Regions from separate parts of the Homo sapiens genome. Here region 2 is linked to region 1. A link means that fine-mapping ties the variant in region 1 to the expression of a gene that starts in the linked region. Tissue or cell type: whole blood. Region 1 holds a variant in brackets; the other region holds the start of a gene. All regions are shown on one strand. Distances are between the middles of the regions.

Region 1 (8,000 bases):
GTTAAAATGCAGCTATTTTAACAAATTGCTATTGCATGCTGAAGATTCTCGAGTCCCTGCCAGGCGGTGAGGTCCTGAGGTTGTGTTTGCAATGTCTGGGTGGACTTCGTTTTTGTTGGAGGATCTTGAGTGCCTTTTGGGGATCTCTCCAGCAGGACTGCCTGAGGGAATCGTAGTGGGGTTAGAGAACAAGGCAGCCATTAGGGGCAGGGCCTGGCTGTGGCCGGGAGTCCAGCTCTGGCCTGGGCTCTGTCCCCATGTCGGCAGCGGGAGCTTTTGTGGACCCAACCATCCGGAGGTCACAGTCAGCTTCCATGTGAAGGTTTGCAGTCCGTTCAGAATTCAAGAGCGAACCCTCCAGACTGCTGGGAGATGTGCCTGAGGAGGGCAATGGTCTGCGGGGGGTCCCCCGTCCTCCTCCCGATCCCCATTCCCTAGCTAGAGCTTGTATAATAGAAGAAGGAAATGCAGGATGTGGAAGCTCTGGTGGCCCCCAGGTGGGTGGGACTTGACAGGTTACCGGCTCTTCCTCTTTCTGTTTCTCTTTCTTGTCCTCTCCATGCCCGAGATGCTCACGTTTTGTGGGGTGGGAGAGTGGCCAGGTAAATCAGCTGCAATAACACCTGTGTACGCAGGACATGGGATATGGCCAGACACAGGCCTGGGGAGCAGGGATCCTGGAGAGCTTTCTCGGGGGAAATGTCTGCCTGCGGCTGGTGGGGTTGACTGGCAGGGAAGGGGTGTCCTCTGGGGAAGAGCGGCACCTGCAGAGCTTTGGAGACATAAAGCAGCCTGAAGGTTGGGGCGTCTCTTGCGGGTATGGGGGTGAGGCTCCAGGCTGTGCTTAGGTGCTTAGGGATCTCAACTACTTCTTCTTCTTCTTCTTTTTTTTTTTTTTTTTTGAGAGGGAGTCTCACTCTGTCGCCCAGGCTGGAGTGCAGTGGCGCGATCTCGGCTCACTGCAACCTCTGCCTCCTGGGTTCACATGATTCTCCTGCCTCAGCCTCCTGAGTAGCTGGGATTACAGGCACCTGCCATCATGCCTGGCACATTTTTTGTATTTTTAGTAGAGACGGGGTTTCACCGTGTTGGCCAGGCTGGTCTTGAACTCCTGACCTCAGATGATCCACCTGCCTCGGCCTCCCAAAGTGCTGGGATTACAGGCGTGAGCCACTGAGCCTGGCCTAGGAACCTGAACTTCTAAAAGAGAGAGCTTAGGAAAGAAAACTCCTGCTCCCATTTGGAGAATGCACAGGTGTTGGGAGGGGTTGGCAGGTGGCAGGGCCCTGGACTGTGGCCACGGCAGCAGAGAGAAGGACGAGCTCTAGGAGACTCTATGGGGATCCAGCCCAGATGTGGGAATCCAGGGCTGAGGGGTCCGTGGGTTCCTGGTGTGACTTGGGGTTGGGGCGTTGGTGCTGTTCTCTGGGTGGGCCTGGGGCTCTGGGTGAGGAGAAGTGGGCTTAGTGGGGAGCAAGCCAGCTTGGTGTCACTGGTGTCGGTCAGGTGGATCTGAGCGTTCCTGGCTGGGAATGCAGATGGGAGCCATGGGGAGGTTGGCTCAAGAGTCACAAGCAGGCATGGAGAATGAGAACTGCCCATGGCCAAGGAGGTGGGAGCAGGCCCCAGGGTTAGGGCTGGGCAGAGCACATGGGACTCCCCAAGATGACAGTGAGGAGTCCCCCAAGTGGGAGGACCAGAGGGAGAGTGGTCCGCAGAGAGGAGAACCCCTGAGGAGAGAGGGCACCAGCACACAGGGCTGCCCGAGGCCCAGGAGACCACTCAGCTGTGGGCGGCTCAGTGCCCACCTGGAGCAAGCACCCTAGAGGAGCAGGAACAGCCGTCTGGGCCGAGGAAAGCCATGCTCTGCAGCAGACCTGTGCGCCCCCAGGGCTGCAGGCTGCTGGCAGTAGCTTCCTGATCAGCCAGACAAGAGGGCTGCAGCTCTCAGGGCCACTAGAATCACCCTTTCCACACTTAACAAAAGGCCTGCACTCCCAGCCTGTGGTGCTCCCTGTCCTGCTGGCTCCTGCTGCTTGTATTTCTTTCAATTATTTATTTTACCTTTTTATTTATTTATTTTTGAGACAGGGTCTCACTCTGTCACCCATGCTGGAGTGCAGTGGCGCGATCATAGCTCATTGTAACCTCAAACTCCTGGGCTCAAGCAATCCTCCAGCCTCAATCTACCAAGTAGCTGGGACTACAGGTGTGCACCACCATGCCCAGCTAATTATTTTTGTATTTTTTGTAGAGATGGGGTCTCACTGTGTTGGCCAGGCTACTCAAACTCCTGGGCTCAAGCGATCCTCCTGCCTTGGCCTCCCAAGGTGTTGGGGTTACAGGCGTGAGCCACCATGCCAGCCAGTGTTGGTGTTACAAGCTCAGTGGTTCAACTGTTGGCCAGGGGTGAAGCAAACGGGCTGAGGACCTGGTGGTGTGCTGAACGCCCAAACCTCTTGGGAGGCAGATTTGGTTTCTGTAAGCTGTTAGAGTGCCAGTTGGACTTGTTTTCCTTTCTTTTCTCTCCTTTTTGTTGTCAGAAGAAATGCTGTCCAGGCATATCAGATAGCAGCGAGGAACTGTGGGACTCAGATCTGTGCCCAAATCAAAAGGCTGAGAGATGAATGGGAGGGAGCTTAACCTTTACTGAGTGCCCATGCTGGGGGCTTTAGAGCCTCGTCATTTTTCACTGTTACTTCGGTATTATAAAGAAGAAATTACTGTCTCCATTCGATAGATTAGGAAACCAAGGCTCATGGAGCAAGATCAGGAAACAGCCCCGGAAAGCTGCAAGTTTTCTTCATCATCAGCTGCTTGGAGAAGCTTCTTTCTAAAAGCCAGGCTTTCTAGAATCATGTAGGGAGGTAACTTGCTGCAGGTGGACGTGCTGTCCTGTAAAGGCTGGCAGGGCCAGTCAGGATCTGCACCCGCAGTGGGGTGGGGGTGCTGCGTGTGGTGTGCCCCCCAGCTGGGAGTGTGGGCTCCCGTGATAACCCGGCTTCACACCAGCCTGGAGCCCAGAGGAAGGGACCGGGTTGCTTCAGGCACCTCTGAAACTTCCGGGGTTGGGC[G/A]GAGGGTGGAACAGGGAGCAGCTGGCCTCAGACTTCACCCCTCACCCCAGAGCGGCAGGAAGCAGAGATTCAGGGTTAATTGCAGGTGTTGCAGAGGGCGAAAGGTGGGTTTGATGTAATTAGCAGAGTTGGAGTTCAGCCAGGGCAAGGAGATGGAGAGAATGTGTGTGTGTGAGTATGAGTGTGAGAGTGTGTGAGTGTGAGAGTGTGTGTGAGTGTGTGTGTGTACACAGTCTTTCTGTTCTCTGAGGCTTCCTTCTCTAGGACTTGAGTCAAGACCTTGATTTGCTGGGGCTTTTCTCCTGTTTCAGGAGCGGCCATCATTTCCTCAGCCTTTGCGGGAAGGAGGTTTGGCTCAGGAGTCTTGCTTTCACTCCTGGTGTTGGGGATGCCACCCAGGCCCCTGTGGCTGTCCCCTTGCCTGGGCCTGTTGGGCACAGCACCGAGCCCAGATGCTCAGAACATGCAGCCTCACAGGGTCTGCTTGGAGACCTGCCCACCTCTGGACATTGACACATCGGGACTTCCCCCAGGCCCCTCTCCCTCCCCTATTGGTGTTTGTTCCAGAATCATGTTTCTGATACAGGTTATCTTACCATGTCAAGTATTGATTTTTTCACCGTTTGCTCAAGTTTTTTTCTTTCTTTCTTTTTTTTTTGGTGACAGGGTCTTGCTCTGTGTAGCCCAGGCTGGAGTGCAGTGGTGCGATCACGGCTTACTGCAGCCTCGACCTTGACCTGCCAGGCTCAAGCAATCCTCCTGCCTCAGCCCCCCGAGTAGCTGGGACTACCAGCATGCACCACCACTTCTGGCTAATTTATGTTTCTGATTTTTTGTAGAGACAGAGTCTCCCTGTGTTGCCCAGGCTGGTCTCGAACTCCTGAAGTTGTTTCTTAATTCATGGCCATTTATTTACAGAGATGTGTGTTTATGAGCCCATCTTGGGGAGCACAAAGTAAGCAACAAAGCTTCTGGGAGTGGAAGCTGAGTGATCCCCTGATCGGAGGGCAAGGGGTCTGAATTTGTGCTTCCGGAAAAATTATGGCTGAAACGATGAATGTTAAGCTTGCAGAAGCCGCGAGTGAGCTGTGCTTGGTGTTCCCGGTGCTTGTCGGGCTCATTCTTAGTTAGCTCTCGTTCAGCTCCGATTGAAAGCTGCACTTGTGGGTGATGAGTGTTGTGGGAATCGAGTGATGCGGGCGTGAATGAAGGTTGGAAACACAGCTCACTTTATGGACATACCCTAAACGCCAAAGTGGGAGGAAGTGGCAGGAGGAACCAGTTCCTTTTGTGACAGAAAGGAGAGAAATGGATTTCTCAAGTCGTTAAAAAGAAAAAACAGAGGTTTCTCCTTTGCCTTGGGTTTGGTGTTAGATGCCAGGATCAGCATGTTTGATGTTCTCACTGGTTTGTCAAAAGGAGTTTCTGAAGAAGAACTTGCCCAGGCAGGCTCTGCCTCTCCGTGAAGCCGGCTGCGTGGCTCACCTCCAGGGCTCGTAACAGTTTTTGTTATTCAGCTCTTCTTTGGGGAATGGCAGAGATTCTCTGCTGCTTCGCCTTGGCATCCAGGGCCCCTTGATCCTTCGAGATGTAATTGTCGCGATATAATTGTCGTCTTATTTTTCTAGTAATGAGAGGAATGTCGAGGGAAGGAGGATGAGGAAGTGCTGGTCTTAAATTGGTGGTTTCAGCCAGTACTGTAAAAGTTGAAGGGGCCGCACTCTGTACCCCCAGTTCTGAGTTGGTGGTATTTAGGGGGGAGGCAGAGATTTCAGATAAAGAGTCAAGGCTGCCACGTTCCACTGGGAGGGTTCTATTGGTTTGGGATTGGGTTTCGGGGAGGCTAAGGGTTGAGGGGTGGTAATTCTACATGTAGGGGTGTTCTGTAGGGGAAGAGATGGGGCACACTGCAGCTCTAGGGAGAAGCCTCTGGTTGCTTTCCTTAGCTGCAGCTGGGCAATCCTGGCCTGGGGGCTGGTGGCCTGGGGAGGGAGCAGGCAGGTTTGCCTTCTCGGCTGGGGGATAACGTTAGCCACTGCCTGGTGGAAGTGGGTGAGCCAGCTCTGTGGGGTGACTTCTTTGGTTACCCGAAGGCCAGAAAAGTGAAGCCAGAGAACAAGGTGGAATGGGAGGTGGGAAGGCAGGAATGATGAGAGCTCTGCCACTGTGTCAGCTTGGGTCCCTGAACGCTTTCCCTGGTCCAGAAGCTTGTGTTCACTGTTCCCAGCAGTGTGACTTAGGGTGCATCGTCCAACCTCACCTGTAGAGCAGGGGTAAAAATTACCTTATAGGTGGTTGTGAGGCTCAAATGAGATCACAAGACGTTTCTTTAATCAGTGAATAATAATAGCGACAGCTCTGGGTCCCAGGCTGACTCTGCAGGGGACGTACTTGTTCACCTGTATTCTGCAGGCGGAGGGGGCAGTTACTTGCAGGTAGGGGTCTTGGGAGGCAGGAGACACAAATCCAAATAGAAATGGAAAAACAACCAAGAGCCTCACCATCTGCAGAGGCACAAGGTCGAATGGTGGGTTCCTTTGAGCGTACCCCTCAGATTTGTGGCCTTGGGTAAGTTACTTCATCTCTGAGAGTCTTTCTTATTTGAAAAGTGGAGATATTAATAGTGCCAGCCTGGGAGGGTTGTAGGAGGGGTTCTACAAAGGCCTTGTACTCAGGGGACACGTGGGTGGGAGGGGAGGATGCCCACCCGTCTGGCAGAGGGGTGGCAGGCAGGCCCCCCACCCAAGGCCCGTCCCCTGGCCACTCTGTGTTCATTTGTTACTGAGCGGATTATCCAAGGACCCCTCCCGGAGTAATGCGCTCTGATTCATTTGGATTAATCTTGCGAGTGTGCACGTGTGCCTGTCTCTAGCCCTGCACGTTTTTCTCCTGTATGATCGTTTTATTTTAAGCTGAGTGACTTACACATATTATCTCATCAAAGGAAGCCTCATGATTTTATCCCTCACCAGCAATAGAATTCCTTAAAAGCAGGCACTGAATCTTTCTGTTTGTCTGTCACACCAGCATGGAAATGTGTCTGCCGTCAGTCAGCATGTGTTAATGACAAGATACATAACAACGGAGGCCACCATTCAGTGGAGTAAATAATTCAGAGAATAAGTCATTACAATCAGGGAGCACGGTGTCACACCAGGCCTGGGCCGGGAATCCTGTCTCTAGGTTAAAATGACCCTGCAAAGTGCCCCCGACCTGCTGCCCTTTCTAGACTGTTGAATAATTAGAGGATGGGGCCTGCCTTGTTCCTCTGTGTCCCTGACACATGGCAGGGACCCAGACCCTGACTGTTTAGAGGGTAAACAGGGGTAAACCGGTATGGAGGTGCAATGCAGTGAGGGGGCTGGGCTGGAGCTTAGGGCTCCCCTACTGTTTTCACGCAGACCTGTAGGCTTTTCATGTGGTGTTTGCTTTGTTGATGGAAATGCCATATGTCAGGTACTGGGAGGCTCAGTCCCTGGGGGGTGGAAATTAAATTGATTGTTTTCAACTTTGTCTAGCCAGCTTGGCTCCCCTGAGCATTCTAAGGTTTAGGCTGAATGACTTTAAAATTTTAAGACTAAAATTTTTGCCTCCTTTCCAAACCTTAGTAACCAGACAGGCTCACCTTCTGCCCAGCAAGTCAGATTTACGTGCCTTTAAAGTGTGGAATTGTGGCTACTTAAAGGACAGAAACTCCGGAGCAGCTGGCACTTTTTGTGCTCAATTGGTCTTCTAGCACCCTGTTTTTAGGGTGAGAATTTGTGGCATTCAGATTTTACGGAGTAGAGCTCATGAAGTTGATTTCTTTTTTTTGAGACGGAGTCTCGCTCTGTCGCCCAGGCTGGAGTGCAGTGGTGCGATCTCGGCTCACTGCAACCTCTGTCTCCCAGGTTCAAGCAATTCTCCTGCCTCAGCCTCCTGAGTAACTGGGATTACAGGCATGGGCCACCATGCCCGGCTAATTTGGTATTTTTTAGTAGAGATGGGGTTTCACCATGTTGGACAGGCTGGGAAGTTGAATATTTCAGGTGGAAATGGACTAAGTTGCAGAGGCGAGTATCCCAAGCTTAGATGCCAGAAGAAGGAAGCGTTGGTGGTTTCTGAGAACTCTGGGCTATTTTGATAACCACCTGGGGCAGTTAATCCAAAACAGGTAGTCCAGACCTTCAGAGGAAGCCAGATCGGGGCTGAGGTGTGGGCCGTCTGGGAGGGCGCTTCTGTCTGTACCCCTTCTCCTACCTTGCCCTTGTTTCTTCCTTCGGGAGGTAGAATTCGCTCAGGTTGCCTCTGCCTCATCTGCCCCTCTGCCTGCAGGGCTGGGGGTTTAGGGGGTGGGGGGGCTCCCATCCTACTTGCGGACAGAATAGCTGGCACCTGGACCTGTCATCTCCCAGCTCAGCCTCTCCCGGGGCAGCTCCTCTTGTCCTCCAGGGCTGCCCTGACACTGGTGTGACCTGGGGCAAGCGGCCCAACCCCTCCTAGCCTGTTCCTCTTTTGTCAGATGGGGGTGATGACTGCACTCCCCTCCCTGGGTTGCAGTGATTCTGAGAGAGCCAGTGAGCGATTGGTGCCTGGGAAATGCCCAGCCCAGTGCCCAGGGGCCGTTTCCGGGAGCGGACTCCGGTACTGTCTCTCCCTCTCCCGCTGCCTCACACGTCCTGTCCTTGCAGTTTCTCCTTCCCCAGCACCTTTCCTTTTTCGCTATGTGAGGCCTTGAGGACTCTCTGGAATTTAACATCATTATCGCCGTCATCACACCCCTGGCCCTGACTTGTTTTCTCTGTGTCCCACCCTACATTGCAGACTCACTCAGGGCGGGGACTCCGGCAGCCTCTGCCTCTCCCAGGAAGTGCAGTGAGGGGGCTCAGTGAGAGTGAGGGGTGCAGTGAGAGTGAGGGGCGCGGTGAGAGTGAGGGGCGTGGTGAG
Region 2 (13,280 bases), 19 kb before region 1:
GTGAGCTATGATTGCTCAGCCATTACACTTCTAGCCTGGGCAACAGAGCGAGACTCTGTCTCAAAAATAAATAAATAAATAAATAAATAAAGTAAATAAAAGAACGTTCCAAAATGTCAGATCTGTGACAGAATATAAAACTATCATAGAATATAGTATTTTGTGGCCAGCCATAGTGGCTCACACCTGTAATCTCAGCACTTTGTGAGGCCGAGGCGGGCAGATCACCTGAGGTCAGGAGTTTGAGAACCGCCTGGCCAACATGGCGAAACCTTGTCTCTACTAAAAATACAAAAATTAGCTCGGCATGGTAGTGAGCTGAGATAGCTTGACCCCTGGGAGACAGAGGTTGCAGTGAGCCAAGATTGCGCCACTGCACTCCAGCCTGGGTGACAGAGCAAGACTCAGTCTCGAAAAAAAAAAAAAATAGCCATTCCCTCTCCCCACCCCAAGTTGTAGTAACAATTTAAGCTCCTGCTCCTATCAGGTGAAGTAGAAATGCCATTAGCTAACACTGCTGAGTCAGTATTTTCTGAGAGGGTAGAAAATTCCTTTATCAGAAGAACACAAAATACTGCTTCTACCCAGGAAGCAATGTATTAAGCAATAGATACATTTATATCCAGAGATTAACAAGGAAAAACTTAAAAATAAAGAGTTAAGGCTCAGATGGATGGAGTGAAAGCCAAGGGTGTTCTGGAAGGATGGAGGAGGGGCATTGGGACTCTCTGTGTAGTGGTCAGTGGAGGGTCTGTGCATTTGCTCCTTGAAGCTTATGCCCCAGCCCGACGGAGACTTCGGGGAAACAATTTTTATTAAAGCAAGGGTAGCAGAATGGGGCAGGAGATGAGGAAGAGACAGTGATTATGTATCTCTATAAAGCTTTATGGCTTCCACAATCTTTTTACATGCATCACCTTGAGCTTTAATATTGTCTTGTCAAGTCACATGGGGAAAATGGTCTTATCTTGATTTTGCAGATTAAGTGACTTCTAGGAGGAAACTTGTCCAGGCCAAACTTGTCCCGTCCTTTGAAGCCTTCCAAGCTTGCTACACCTGGGGCACCATCCAGTTTGCCTGCCCCATTGCCTCCTAGGGAACAAGGGAGCTGAGTTAGATCCTTTTAATCCTGGTGGCGTAGTCAAGCCAAGGCATGGTAGCAGATACATCAATGATTATGAACCAACACAGCAGCTAACTGACCCCAAAGCAAACATTCCTGACATGGCTGTGGCCCAGGGCCTTGTCAATGTCCCCAGGGGAAAATTCCCTCACCAGGATGGGAAAAGTCTCACAACTGTCAGAAGGCATTTGTCCACTGTATTTCTTAGTGTGAAAGAATAAGCTTACTCAATAAATTTTTTTTTTTGAGACAGAGTCTTGCTCTGTCACCCAGGCTGGAGTGCAATGGTGCAATAGCAGCTCACTGCAACCTTCCCCTCCCGGGTTCGAGTGATTCTCAGCCTCCAGAGTAGCTGGGATCACAGGTGTGCACCACCACACCCAGCTAATTTTTCTATTTTTTTTGGCCAGGCTGGTCTTGAACTCTTGGGCTGAAGTGATCCACCTACTTAGGCCTCCCAAAGTGCTGGGATTACAGGTGTGAGGCACTGCACCCGGCCTCAATAAATAACTTTAAAGATTCCTCATCCTTGTCTTTCCAAAAAAATTGGAAAAACAACTTTGGCCGCATCTGCATCCCTTACTTTTCAGAAGAGAGGCTTCCGAGCGAAGAGCGGTGTGTGTACACATCATACCTATTTTTGAACTAACTTACATTATGAGCAATTAAGGAACTTTTTTAAATAAAAGATTTTTAGCCGGGCGCGGTGGCTCACGCCTGTAATCCCAGCACTTTGGGAGGCCGAGGCAGGCGGATCACGAGGTCAGGAGATAGAGACCATCCTGGCTAACACGGTGAAACCCCGTCTCTAGTAAAAAATACAAAAAATTAGCCGGGCGTGGTGGTGGGCGCCTGCAGTCCCAACTACTCTGGAGGCTGAGGCAGGAGAATGGCGCGAACCCGGGAGGCGGAGTTGCAGTGAGCAGAGAGCACGCCACTGCACTCCAGCCTGGGCAACAGAGTGAGACTCTGTTGTCTCAAAAAAAAAAAAAAAAAAAAAAAAGAGAAAAGAAAAAAAGATTTTTATTTCAGATAAAATTAATATTTCCATAATTAGGATACACACATAATTAGCAAACACACATTCTTGAGTCCATTATTTAAGGTTTATTCTATAAACGACTTCCATGAGTATTAGAGATCCTGAATGTCATCTGAATATTTGTCTACACACTTGTGGGCAGCTTCTGTAGACTTTTCTTTGTAGAAATTCCAGTTTTTCTGAATTCTTCCTTTTCCTTCAGGTTTTCCACTTTGCATTATTCATAAAAGGCTGGGTCATTATAGTGAGCTGTTAAGACATTCTTTCAATGCAGAATTTTCTTTCCAGCATTTTACTACCATAAGGATTCCAGAGTTCTTGCAACATTTGGTAAAATCTTGAACTTGTCAGAAGACCTCTCTCTGGCCTTTTCTCTCATTATTTTAGGGATCAAAACATCTTTTTCGACACGTCTGAGCTGCTGCTCCAAAAACCTGTAGTGTCTTCCCATTGTTTTTGGTATAAAAATCAAACTCCTTGAAATGGTTTACAGGACATTTCATGATTCACAACTGAAACTCCTCCACAGCGATGGCACACACTCCTCTTTGATCTCAATTCTTCTTTCTTGTGGTCTTTGCTTAAACCACTGTTCTTTAAATTTCACAGAGCAACCATCAGAGTTGTTAAATTAATCCGCGGGGTCGAGTGCCATCGCGGCGGGCGGAGAAGCAATTAAGGAACTTCTCTAATGAACTTCTGGTGCACAACAAAACCATGTAGTCTCGAAATTTTAGTTCCTCCGCAGTCCCCCATTGTGTTTTATGCTACCCCGCCTTCCACAGTCTCTAGGGACCCCTAACCGACCCCCTTGGCTCTCAGGCCATAATCTCACAACCCTCCCCAGCCCAACGGGGTCCGCCAGCGCTGGGCTGTAATACCACTCGCCACCAGCAGATGCCGCAGCCCCAACGCTGCACAGAGCCAACTTTCAAAATTACCACCGAGCCTGTCGGCAGCCATTTAGTGCCTGCTGTATACTTGCCAAGCGCCACGCAGGGCCCTTCGGGTCAACCCTGTACCAGTTGGCCCAGCTGCGAAATGCGGCGATCGTTAGGGTTAAATTAGTAAAATGGTCTACAGTGCTTTGAACAATGACCGGCTGGTGGTGTGAAATTATTACCAGGCCGAGACCAGCCTGGAGCCGGCTCCTGCCTCGTGCCGTCCCGCAAGGAGGTCCTGCCCCCGGGCTTGCCTTCCAGCCAGTTGGGGCCTTTGCCCTTTTTCCTGTCGCCTGCCACTAAGCTGCTGCTAGGAACCCCGGCTGGAATTTAGCTCGCCTCCGGCAAAGTGGTGGGGGCGGGCCCGGGTCGGGGAGGCCACATCACCTGCTTCCTGCAGGAACTTTTAGAAGGCAGGCAGCCCGGAACATGGCACGGTGGGGCACGGTAGGGCGCGAGGGGCCGCGCCCCTAAGGCCTAAACTCAACATAAAGTTTCTTCTTTGCCCTCCAGCCCAGCCCCAGGGTCGGGGCGCGTTTATCGCGCCGCGCACAAGCGTGAGGAGCGGGGGTTTGCGGGGCCTCTTGACTGTACCTGGGGCTGCACCTGCCAGGAGTGCGGAAAGGCGCAGGGCCGAGGTCCCCAAGCCCAGAGCGGGCGGCAGCTGCGGGCGACCTCGGAGGGCAGAGCAACCTCGGAGGGCAGGGCGTCCCCGCTCCCGGCACGCACCAGTGCCCGCGCACCCCAGCTCGCACGTGGCGCTCGGGCCCCGGCTGCACGCGCACGCGCGCAGGGATGCGCCACGTGCTGGGGCCCCACACGCGGGGAGGCTGCGCTCGGCGAGGGCGCGCGGTCCCACGGGCGGGGAGCCGGGCCCCGCGACCCACCCGCCTCGGGCCACCAGTCCCCTCCCAGCGCCCCGCGTAGCCTGGTCCCGCGCCCGGGCTCCCGGGCTCCCGGGCTGGCACCGCGAGGCGGCGCGCCGGTCGCCCAGGGCCGCCGAGGGGCGGGGCCGCCCGTATTGTTCCTCCCCGAGCGGCTGGCCCTCCCCTTCCCCCAGACCCGGGCGGGGCGCGGGGCCGCCGAAGCCGCGGAACGTGGGCTCGCGCGCCCCGCCTTTGTCTCCCGGGCGCGAGCCGCCGCAGCCCCGCGCCCGCTGCTCGCTGCGGAGCCGTTTTGTGCCGCGGCGCGGGGGAACGGGGACGCGGGGCGGGGGGCGCGGAGCCGGCGGGCGCAGCCTCAGCATGGACGTGACAGTCTCGGAGCTCCTGGAGCTCTTCCTGCAGAGCCCGCTGGTGACCTGGGTGAGTGCGCCTGGCTCCCCGCCCCTTTGTTGGTGCACCGGCTTCTCTCTAGCCCGGCGACGGGACGCCGCAGACCCGACACGGCCGGGGCCCCGGGTGGCTCCGGGGCGCGAGGGACGCAGCAAGTGGCTCCCGGCCGGGGTTGGGGCCGCGTCCTGGAGTCCGGAGCTTTGTAACTCTGGAGCCGGCGCCCCCGTTGTGCGTCCGGCGCGGGACCCCGCCGCGCTTTCGGCCGGGCCAGGAGCCGGGCGGGTACACCTGTTCCCGCTGGGGCTCTAGGCTGGCTGCCTCGGGGCGGACCGGGTCCCAGTGGTCACTCCTGTCCCTGGGGTTTAGCCACTCCCGAAAAGGACCCCATTCTTCCCAACCAAATATCTCATGTAGTTTTTCTGAATCCCTGAGACCAGCCGGTGGATGGCGGTGACGGGTGGGGAATGGGGGGCGCCGAATGGGAAAGCGAACAGACTGGGGTGGGCGCACTGATTTACAATGGATTTGAGACGTGAGACATTTATTGAAAAGTCCTTTTTATTTTTATTTCTTCCGCTCTGGAACGCGGGAGAAAAGTGGCGAGGAAGTTTTTCCTCCTGTCTCGTGTCTGTTGCCCCGCGCGGGGAGGGGAGACAGGCCCTAGGAGAAGGCCGGGCTTGGTGCCTGCTGAAGGGTGGTGTGGGCGTGGGTGACCCCCTTCTGCTCACACTGACCCGTCCAGTCTCTGCCTGGGAGAGCTTTGGACCGTTTGTGCGCACGGGGTGACTTCCTGTCTTTCTCTCCTCGTCCCCCTCCCCGCAGGTGAAAACTTTTGGCCCGTTTGGAAGCGGCAGCCAGGACAACCTGACTATGTACATGGATTTAGTGGACGGCATCTTTTTGAACCAAATTATGCTGCAAATGTAAGTTACCTTCTTCTCGGAGGAAGGAAAGAATGGTGCGTTAGAAAGTTTGAGAGTAGAAATGGAGTGGAAGGTTGCATGGCGGGGTGTGTGTGGGGTGGGGGGTAGTTCTCTGAAGGTGGAGACGCTGGTATCTCAGTATTAACGTGCCTGTTGGACATTCGTAGGTGTTTGAAGAACTCCAGGACAGTGGGTCTGGCAGTTGGTTTGATGAAGGAAATTTGGAATTGAATGACTGTCATTTACGTGGTGTAGATAGTGCAATTGACTTCAGACTCAAGGACTTAATTGTGGTTTGAGCAATGAAATGAAAAAGTCCCCTTTTGGAGGGCAAGGAACTGTAACGGAGAGTGTCTGGTTACAGGAAGTGTCGGGGTGGGCCCAGGCATCCGAGGGTTACTGTAAAGTTTCATTTTAGATGAGGGTGTCTGTGTTTCTGAGCTCCTTTACATTTCATCTTCCTTTTTCAGTTGCCCCAAAGCAAGTGCAATTCATTAAGTCCTACTGTATGGACTGAGTTTAAAGTCACAGTGTTAGGAGGGTCCCATGGTGCTGTTTGTTTGGAAGCATGCAGCCTGAACAGGGTCTTAGTAGAAGTTACTCTTGCCAGCGAGTACATCTGACCACATCCTTTCCTGTTGCTGAGCTCTGCACGGCCTGATTGACAGCTTGCCACAACGTAGGTGTTGGCTTCTACCTTTGCATTCTGTTTTTAACTCAAACTGCAGGGAACATTGGAACTGAGTGTCGGGATGATTCACAGGCACTTGAAGCAAAATAAAACATCCTAATGTTCTCTGTGGATCAGCCTCGTGTGCGCACCTATTCACCTACGACTGAGCAAGTTGTCATACTGGAGCATAAATCTATTAGCTAATGAGAGATCAGCTTCGTTTGTGGCTCACAAAGGCAGAGGAGCAGTTTGCTTTGGCATATCCAGAAAGTGGCTTATATAGATTGCCTTAAACAGCCTGTTTAGAAAAAAATAATTCAAGAACCTTGCTTTTTTTTTTTTTGGAGACGGAGTTTCGCTCTTGTTGCCCAGGCTGGAGTGCAATGGCGTGATCTCAGCTCACCACAACCTCCGCCTCCCGGGTTCAAGCGATTATCCTACCTCAGCCTCCCGAGTAGCTGGGATTGCAGGCATGCGCCACCACGCCCGGCTAATTTTGTATTTTTAGTAGAAATGGGGTTTCTCCATGTTAGGCTGGTCTCGAACTCCCGACCTCAGGTGATCCGCCTGCCTTGGCCTCCCAAAGTGCTGGGATTACAGGCATGAGCCACTGTGGTGCCCGGCCTCCTTTTATTTTAATAAGTCATTTGATGTCATGCTGTTTAATGGTTTTTGCTTTTTTTTTTTTAAAGTTCACAGCTGTGGGTGTAGGAAAAAAAGTCACTACCAATCTTACCAGTCTTCAGTGTCTGATTAGATTGAAAAACATAAATCTGTTGCCAGCTTTGACAGCACTTCTTAGATAACTTTGTTGAAACTGAGTTTTCCGGAAGCTGTCTCGTGGCATATTCGAGTTCTGGCCACTCTCCCCTCATTCTGTTAGACCCTGAAAATTACTGGATTCCATTGGCGCAATGACCGGTGAAACTTCAACCTGTCCTTACCCAAGCCCAAGACTGTTTAATTAAAAAAACCAGCAGTATCCCCAGCCTTTTCATTCAGCTCCTACACCCAGGCAGAGGGGGGAACAAAAGCACTGGGACTGTTTCTCTTTCTTCCCTGACCTTTGGAATTCCTGAAGCGTTTCCCACTTGCTTGTAAATCAGGAAAGCCTGTTGGACCGTTCCTTTGAGAAACGCCAGCTCATCACTTGTTCTCATTTGGCCCATGGCTAAATTCGGCCGGGGTGGTGTGGGGTGGGAGGGTTTCTCCCCTTCCCTGGGCAATTTTAGATGTTCTCTCTGTGATATGCCAAGGTAATCATTCCAGAAGTGGGAACTGGTAAATTGTAGCTCTTAAGACTTCAAGAAGTGCTTCTGGGTCCCTCAGGATGAGTTGGGCACAGAGGAATGGAGCGTGGGGAGGCTGAATGGCTGGCTTTCCAGAATGAGGAAAGAGAAGAGAGAGCGGGTGGGCATGGTTTCCTGCATGGGTCATCAGAATCACCCAGTTCCAGGTGATAGAAGTCAGAATAGTGTTTTTGTGTCTGGAAGTGGTGAGGATTGACTGGAAAGGACCCGGGGGAACCTTTTCAGGGTAGTTGAAATGTCCTGCAGAGTGGCTGGAGTATGTTTCATTTTCCAAAACTCCTCAAATTATAACTTTATGCATTTCATGCTATGTAAAATTACCTCAACTAAACAATGAACCCTGGCCTGTATCGGACAGCCTACATAGCCAGCTGGGATTCAAACCCTTGGCCTCCCTTTTACCAGCAGTGTGACACTGGGCATGTCGCTCAGTGCCTTAGTTTCCTCATCTGTAAAATGGGACGTAAAGTACCTTCCTTAAGAGATGGTTGTGAGGACAGAATGAAACCTTGTGTTAACATTTAGCTATTTGCCTATGTAGGTGCCATCTTAATCCAGAAAGGATTTGAGGCACCAACTAAAAGTTCTTTTTTTGTGTGGCCTACCTTTTCCCCCACATTCTTCGATCCTTGGATTACCCCACAGTTCTCAGCCCTTAGCCCTCTACCAATGAGGTCTAGGGCAACATTGGACCCTGGGACCCAAGTCCTAGCCCCGCATTTAGACTGTACTGCACTTAAGCCTCTGTTTTCACTTCTACCAAATGGCAACATGTCACTAGCCAGCAGGTAAGGGGTAAGGCTGTTCTGCCTCATCTCCCATACCAGTAGCTCCTAGACTGTGCTATTTGCCTGTTTTGATTCCTTCACCCCAAGTTTGTAGGACCTGAAGAAATCGCGTTGAGCAGTACTGCTAACAGAGCTCAGATAAGAGGCTGTTACCTAACACCTGGGAGCCTTGTGGAGGTTGGCTGGGGGTCACGTGACTGCACCTGGCCATTGTCTCCGGCAACCGGAGAAGGCTGTTAGTAGTCTCTCGGCCCTGGTCTCCTGGTGACATCAGCACCTGGAAGCAGGGAAGCCCCACAGGTTCAGCTTTCTGGGGAGGCCCAGGGCTAGGAGAATTCATGAATGAAACTGAGGCTTTGAGTGGCCTGGATGGAGAGGCCTGGGAATGCCTGCTCAATAGCCCCTCTGTCAACACAGTGTCTTGGGTACCTACCAGCACCCAAGAGAAAACAAAGTTTGCTCTGGTTAACTTTGGACACGTTTTTCATTCTCTTGTAGGAAAATTATTTAAGAGCCTTAACCCTAGCATCAGGCAGACAAGTTCAAATCCCCACTCTGCCACTTCCTAGTGTTATTATGTTGGGCAAATGACTGAAACTCTCTAAGCCTTGATTTCCTGATCTGTAATAAGGGGATGGTATTTTACCAATTTGGGGGAGATTTAAATAAAACTATGTATATAGAACAAGCCTAACATATGTCTATCATTGTGCAGATGAGGCCCAGATCTGAGTTTGTGTGTGGACATACGTACGTGTACCCATGCCCTTAGTGCTGTACATCTCTACTTGTGAGAGTAAACCATCCGGTTTGACGCAGTGGCTAAAGTTGGAACTTGGTACTAGGGCTGAGAGCTTGTGCCCTTTAAGTTCAACCATATTTGTTCAGGCTGCTTGTGACCCCTGGTGCTAGCTGCAAAATTCAGGATACTGTGTTAATTATTCATAGGTTAGAAACATCCTCGGGGAAATAGGAGAGTTTCTTTACCTCCCAAAAAGCATTTGAAGGATAACTTTTACCCCAGTGCACTTGAAGGAGAGTTTATGTTTCCCTTTTGCAGATGTAGAAGCTTAGGATAAAAGGGGAAATTTTACTTGTTGGTTGAATGAATTTGTATTGGCGCAAAAATCTTGGGAAAAAACAATTTTTACCTATGAACTTAAGTAATTTCCATCTTTTGGCTGCAGTATATGACACATGGGGGCTTTGAGTCCTTAAAAATTATACAAACAGGCTGGGCACGGTGGCTCACGCCTGTAATGCCAGCACTTTGGGAGGCTGAGGTGGGCGGATCACAAGGTCAGGAGATCGAGACCATCCTGGCTAACACAGTGAAACCCCGTCTCTACTAAAAATACAAAAAAATTAGCCAGGCGTGGTGGCGGGCGCCTGTAGTCCCAGCTACTGAGGAGGCTGAGGCGGGAGAATGGCATGAACCCGGGAGGCAGAGCTTGCAGTGAGCCAAGATTGTGCCACTGCACCCAGCCTGGGCAACAGAGCCAGACTCCATCTCAAAAAAAAAAAAAGAAAAAAATACACAAACTATGTTCATCTTAGGAGAATAGGAATATATACAGATGAGCAAAATAAAACTTGCCTGTGATTTTACCATGTGGAGGTAGCAATGTCAATATTCTAGTGCCTTCCGAATGTTATCTATGATATATATTAATACGTGTCCTTAATGTATTAATATTTTTATACAAATATGGACTCTTGCTATTGTTTTTTAGCATGGGTCCATATTTGTATAAAAATACATTAAACATATATAAAAACATTTAGCATGTTTTTTAACCTGTGATAAATTAGGGATATCTCTCTGTGTCAATACATAGTTTCTTGATTTAGCTTTAAATTTAGGAAGTTTTTGGAATATGACCAAAAGTTGGGGGCTGGCTTTCCCAAAGGAGGGGGGCAAGGTTACTGTAAGCCTAAATTATAACTCTTTTTAAAATTCTAGCAAGAATTGGTTATCTTTCTTCTTCCTTTTTTTTTTTTTTTGAGATGGAGTCTCACTCTGTTGCACAGGCTGGAGTGTAGTGGCTTGATCTCTGCTCATTGCAACCTCTGCCTCCCAGGTTCAGGTGATTCTCCTGCCTCAGCCTCCCGATTAGCTAGGATTACAGGCGCATGCCACCATGTCTGGCTAATTTTTGTATTTTTAGTGGAGACAGGGTTTCACCATGTTGGCCAGGCTGGTCTCGAACTCCTGACCTCAAGTGATCCTCTCACCTCGGCCTCCCAAAGTGCTGGGGTTACAGGCATGAGCCATCGTGCTTGGCCAGTTTCTTTTTTTCTAGTTGGAAGTTTTTATGAAAAGGAATCCCTGGGGGCCCACACTTTAGACTTGGAACTCTTGGAACTCTCCAAGTTCCGACCAGCTACCATATTTATGTCGTGTCCTCTGAGATCCTGATACTAGAGTGTTGGCCTTTTAAGTTTTAGGACTATCATATAAAGATGATTGTTGTTCTGAATGACAACTTTTGGGGAAGTGCAGTTGTTTAGCGGTTATAATAACATCTTCCTGTGGTACAGAAGCAAGTACAGTCCACGTTTGCTACTGCAGATGTAGGCTTCATGGAACCATATAGACTTTGAAGGCCGGAAGGATCCTGTAGCCATTTTGCAGATGAGAACACTGAAGCCCAGTGAGCTTTGGCTGGGCTTGGGACCTGGGCTAGAACCCATGTCTCTTGATTCCCATTTTGTACAGCATGGAAAGGTGGGAGTTACGGGGGTGCTGGGCAGAGTGGAGATTGAGATGTGCCTGCCTTAACTGTAGTTGAGGCTTTTGTTTTGATTAGTGTCCTGATAGCTCTCTACCCAGAGAGGCTTAGTTAAAGGAGGGAGTCGTAATAATCACGGTAAGTAGCTTAATTACTCATACAGTAAATGTCAGGGTTCTTTTAGAGTTGTTTCAGTGAGCTATTTCTTGCAAGAACTGGGGAGAACAATAGCAGGGATGGTCAGAGGCTTCTATGCTGTGATGTGAGGGGACTCCCAGGTTCCCGACCCTGAGTGTATGCTATGCCTTTGCACGTGCTGGAGATGTCCACGATGTATACTGAGGCTTTCGGCTCCTGGCCACTCCTGGGGTGGTCCCGTCTGACTTCAATGAAAGATGGGTCTACAATGACAAAGACCAAAGAAAGAAGAAACAAAACAGAAAAAGCGCTGCATGTTCTCTGAGTTCTGCTATTTTAAGAAGTGCATTTGTCACTGTGAAATTGATTTTCATCTTTTAAGGTATCTACAGTAAAGGGAGGGGAATTGTACCTTTAAGATAAATTACTTTATGCTGCCAGGAACACTTCTGTAGCTAAAAATGCCTTTGCAGTTTAAATTCTGAATGCCTCTTCTTTTCCTGAATTAATTTCCACAGAACTCTTAACCTTTATTTTCTCAGTTATGCATGACTCCAAGAGAAACATGTAACATGTAAATGACTTGGCCACACTCCATCACTGTACTTCCAGAAACATTTGAAACGTTTTCGATTTGTAGGGTTTTTTTTTCCTTTGTCAATTTTCTACTAATTATTGGCTTTGAATGAGCCAGATGGCATTGAGATTGATTTCCTTAACTCCCCACACTAACCCCCAAGAGGCTCAGCACCTTCATCACGGGGTCTGGATAACAGAAGAAACTGTGAAGACAGGCTCTCCTTTGAATTAGCCATCCTTTGCGGTGTCTTGGGACTGTCAGATGGAAGGGAGGCCTTTGTTATGAAAAGCAGCGCACAGTCTGTGGAAGGGTGGAAGCGAACTCAGTAATGCTGAGTGCTCTTGTCTAATGGGGAACGTTTTCTGACACTGAGCATTTTGAGAAATGTCCTGTATATAGATGAGGGAGGGACATGATACATCACTTGATGTAGATTTCTAGTTTCATCACAGCCAGACCCAACTTTTGCCTGAGGTTGGAAAATAAATGACACTTCGGGGATTCCCCACATGAATTAATTGTGTCTCTTAGCATTTCTTACAGGGTGCATTGTACACCATAGAGTGCCATAGATTGTTTATGCCAGTTTCTCAAGATAGGATTTTTGTCCCTGGAATTTGTAAATCACAGGGAGGACCAGCCCAAGACCAATTCGCATGACAGAGGGAGACCTGTGTTTAATGGAACATTATGATTTTATTGGCGAATTAAGTCAGAAAATGTACCATTTTGGCCTGGCACAGTGGCTCACACCTGTAATCCCGGCACTTTGGGAGGCCAAGGCGGGTGTCACTTGAGGTCAAGAGTTCGAGACCAGCCTGGCCAACATGGTGAAACCCTGTCTTTACTAAAAATACAAAAATTAGCTGGGCGTGGTGGCATGCACCTATAATCCCAGCTACTTGGGAGGCTGAGGTGGGAGAATCGCTGGAACCCAGGAGGTGAAGGTTGCAGTGAGCTGAGATCGTGCCACTGCCCTCCAGTCTGGGCAAAAGAGCAAGACTCCGTCTCAAAAAAAAAAAAAAAGAAATGTACCGTTTTAGGCTGGGCACAGTGGCTCACACCTGTCATCCCAGTGTTTTGGGGGTCTGAGGCAGGAGGATGGCTTGAGGAGTTCGAGACCAGCCTGGGCAACATAGTGAGACCCTGTCTCTATAAAAAAAATTAAAAAAAAATTAGCTGGGCCTGTAGTCCTAGCTGCCTGGGAGGCTGAGACAGGAAGATCCCTTGAGCTCAGGAGTTCGAGGCTGTAGTGATCTGTGATGGTGCCACTGCATGCCAGACTGGGTGACAGAGTGAGACCTGTCTCTATTTAAAAAAAAAAAAAAACTACCATTTTTCTCCTTCTGTCTTTCTTGATATTTCACATATTTTTCTTTGTTCAGCTTTTAATTCTTTTAATCTTGAAATATATTTGGCTGGGTTGGTTTTATACAGTATAACATTTGGGGTCTGCACTGATATGTGGTTGGTTTTTGTGGGTGCTAGGAACGGTGGGAATGGAAACAGCACTGACTGAGGGCCTGCGGTGGGCCAGGTGCTCGGGTCAGGGAGCAGAAAGGCGATGTGGCCCACCTGAGGTCCTGGCTTAGCAGTGGCAGGATTGGGATTTGACTTGAACCACAACTGCCACAGCACAGCCTCATGGTCACCTAGGGACTGGAGGACAAGATGCTGGGTCGTGGCTGGGAAAGGAAGTGTGGCAGCTGCTGGGAGATGCAATTTCCATTCTCGTGTTTCTTCCCCTAGAGATCCC

The links. PIP is the estimated chance that this variant, and not a neighbour inherited with it, causes the effect.
Region 2: it holds the start of CCDC88C, and the variant in region 1 is fine-mapped to the expression of CCDC88C in whole blood (INTERVAL, PIP above 0.99).

The regions. Positions count from the first base shown.
Region 1 is chr14:91,392,741-91,400,740 of GRCh38, reverse strand. The region is part of intron 3 of CCDC88C (coiled-coil domain containing 88C); the gene reads left to right. LOC105370624 (a long non-coding RNA gene) reads left to right here and starts at 542. Exons shown (of 2, transcript XR_944148.3): 1 at 542-602. RefSeq lists enhancers at 1-357, 198-557, 918-977, 1,619-2,250, 2,344-2,413. The variant G/A (reference allele first, on the strand shown) is at 3,075.
Region 2 is chr14:91,408,761-91,422,040 of GRCh38, reverse strand. CCDC88C (coiled-coil domain containing 88C) reads left to right here and starts at 4,221. Exons shown (of 30, transcript NM_001080414.4): 1 at 4,221-4,410; 2 at 5,203-5,303; 3 at 13,274-13,280. The coding sequence starts at 4,351. It overlaps CCDC88C-DT (CCDC88C divergent transcript), which reads right to left and starts at 3,795. Exons shown (of 3, transcript NR_184261.1): 1 at 3,701-3,795; 2 at 918-1,092. It also overlaps the pseudogene LOC112268126. RefSeq lists enhancers at 2,806-2,855, 3,096-3,740, 5,346-5,635, 5,646-5,775, 6,166-6,295 and 2 more and a silencer at 3,806-4,725.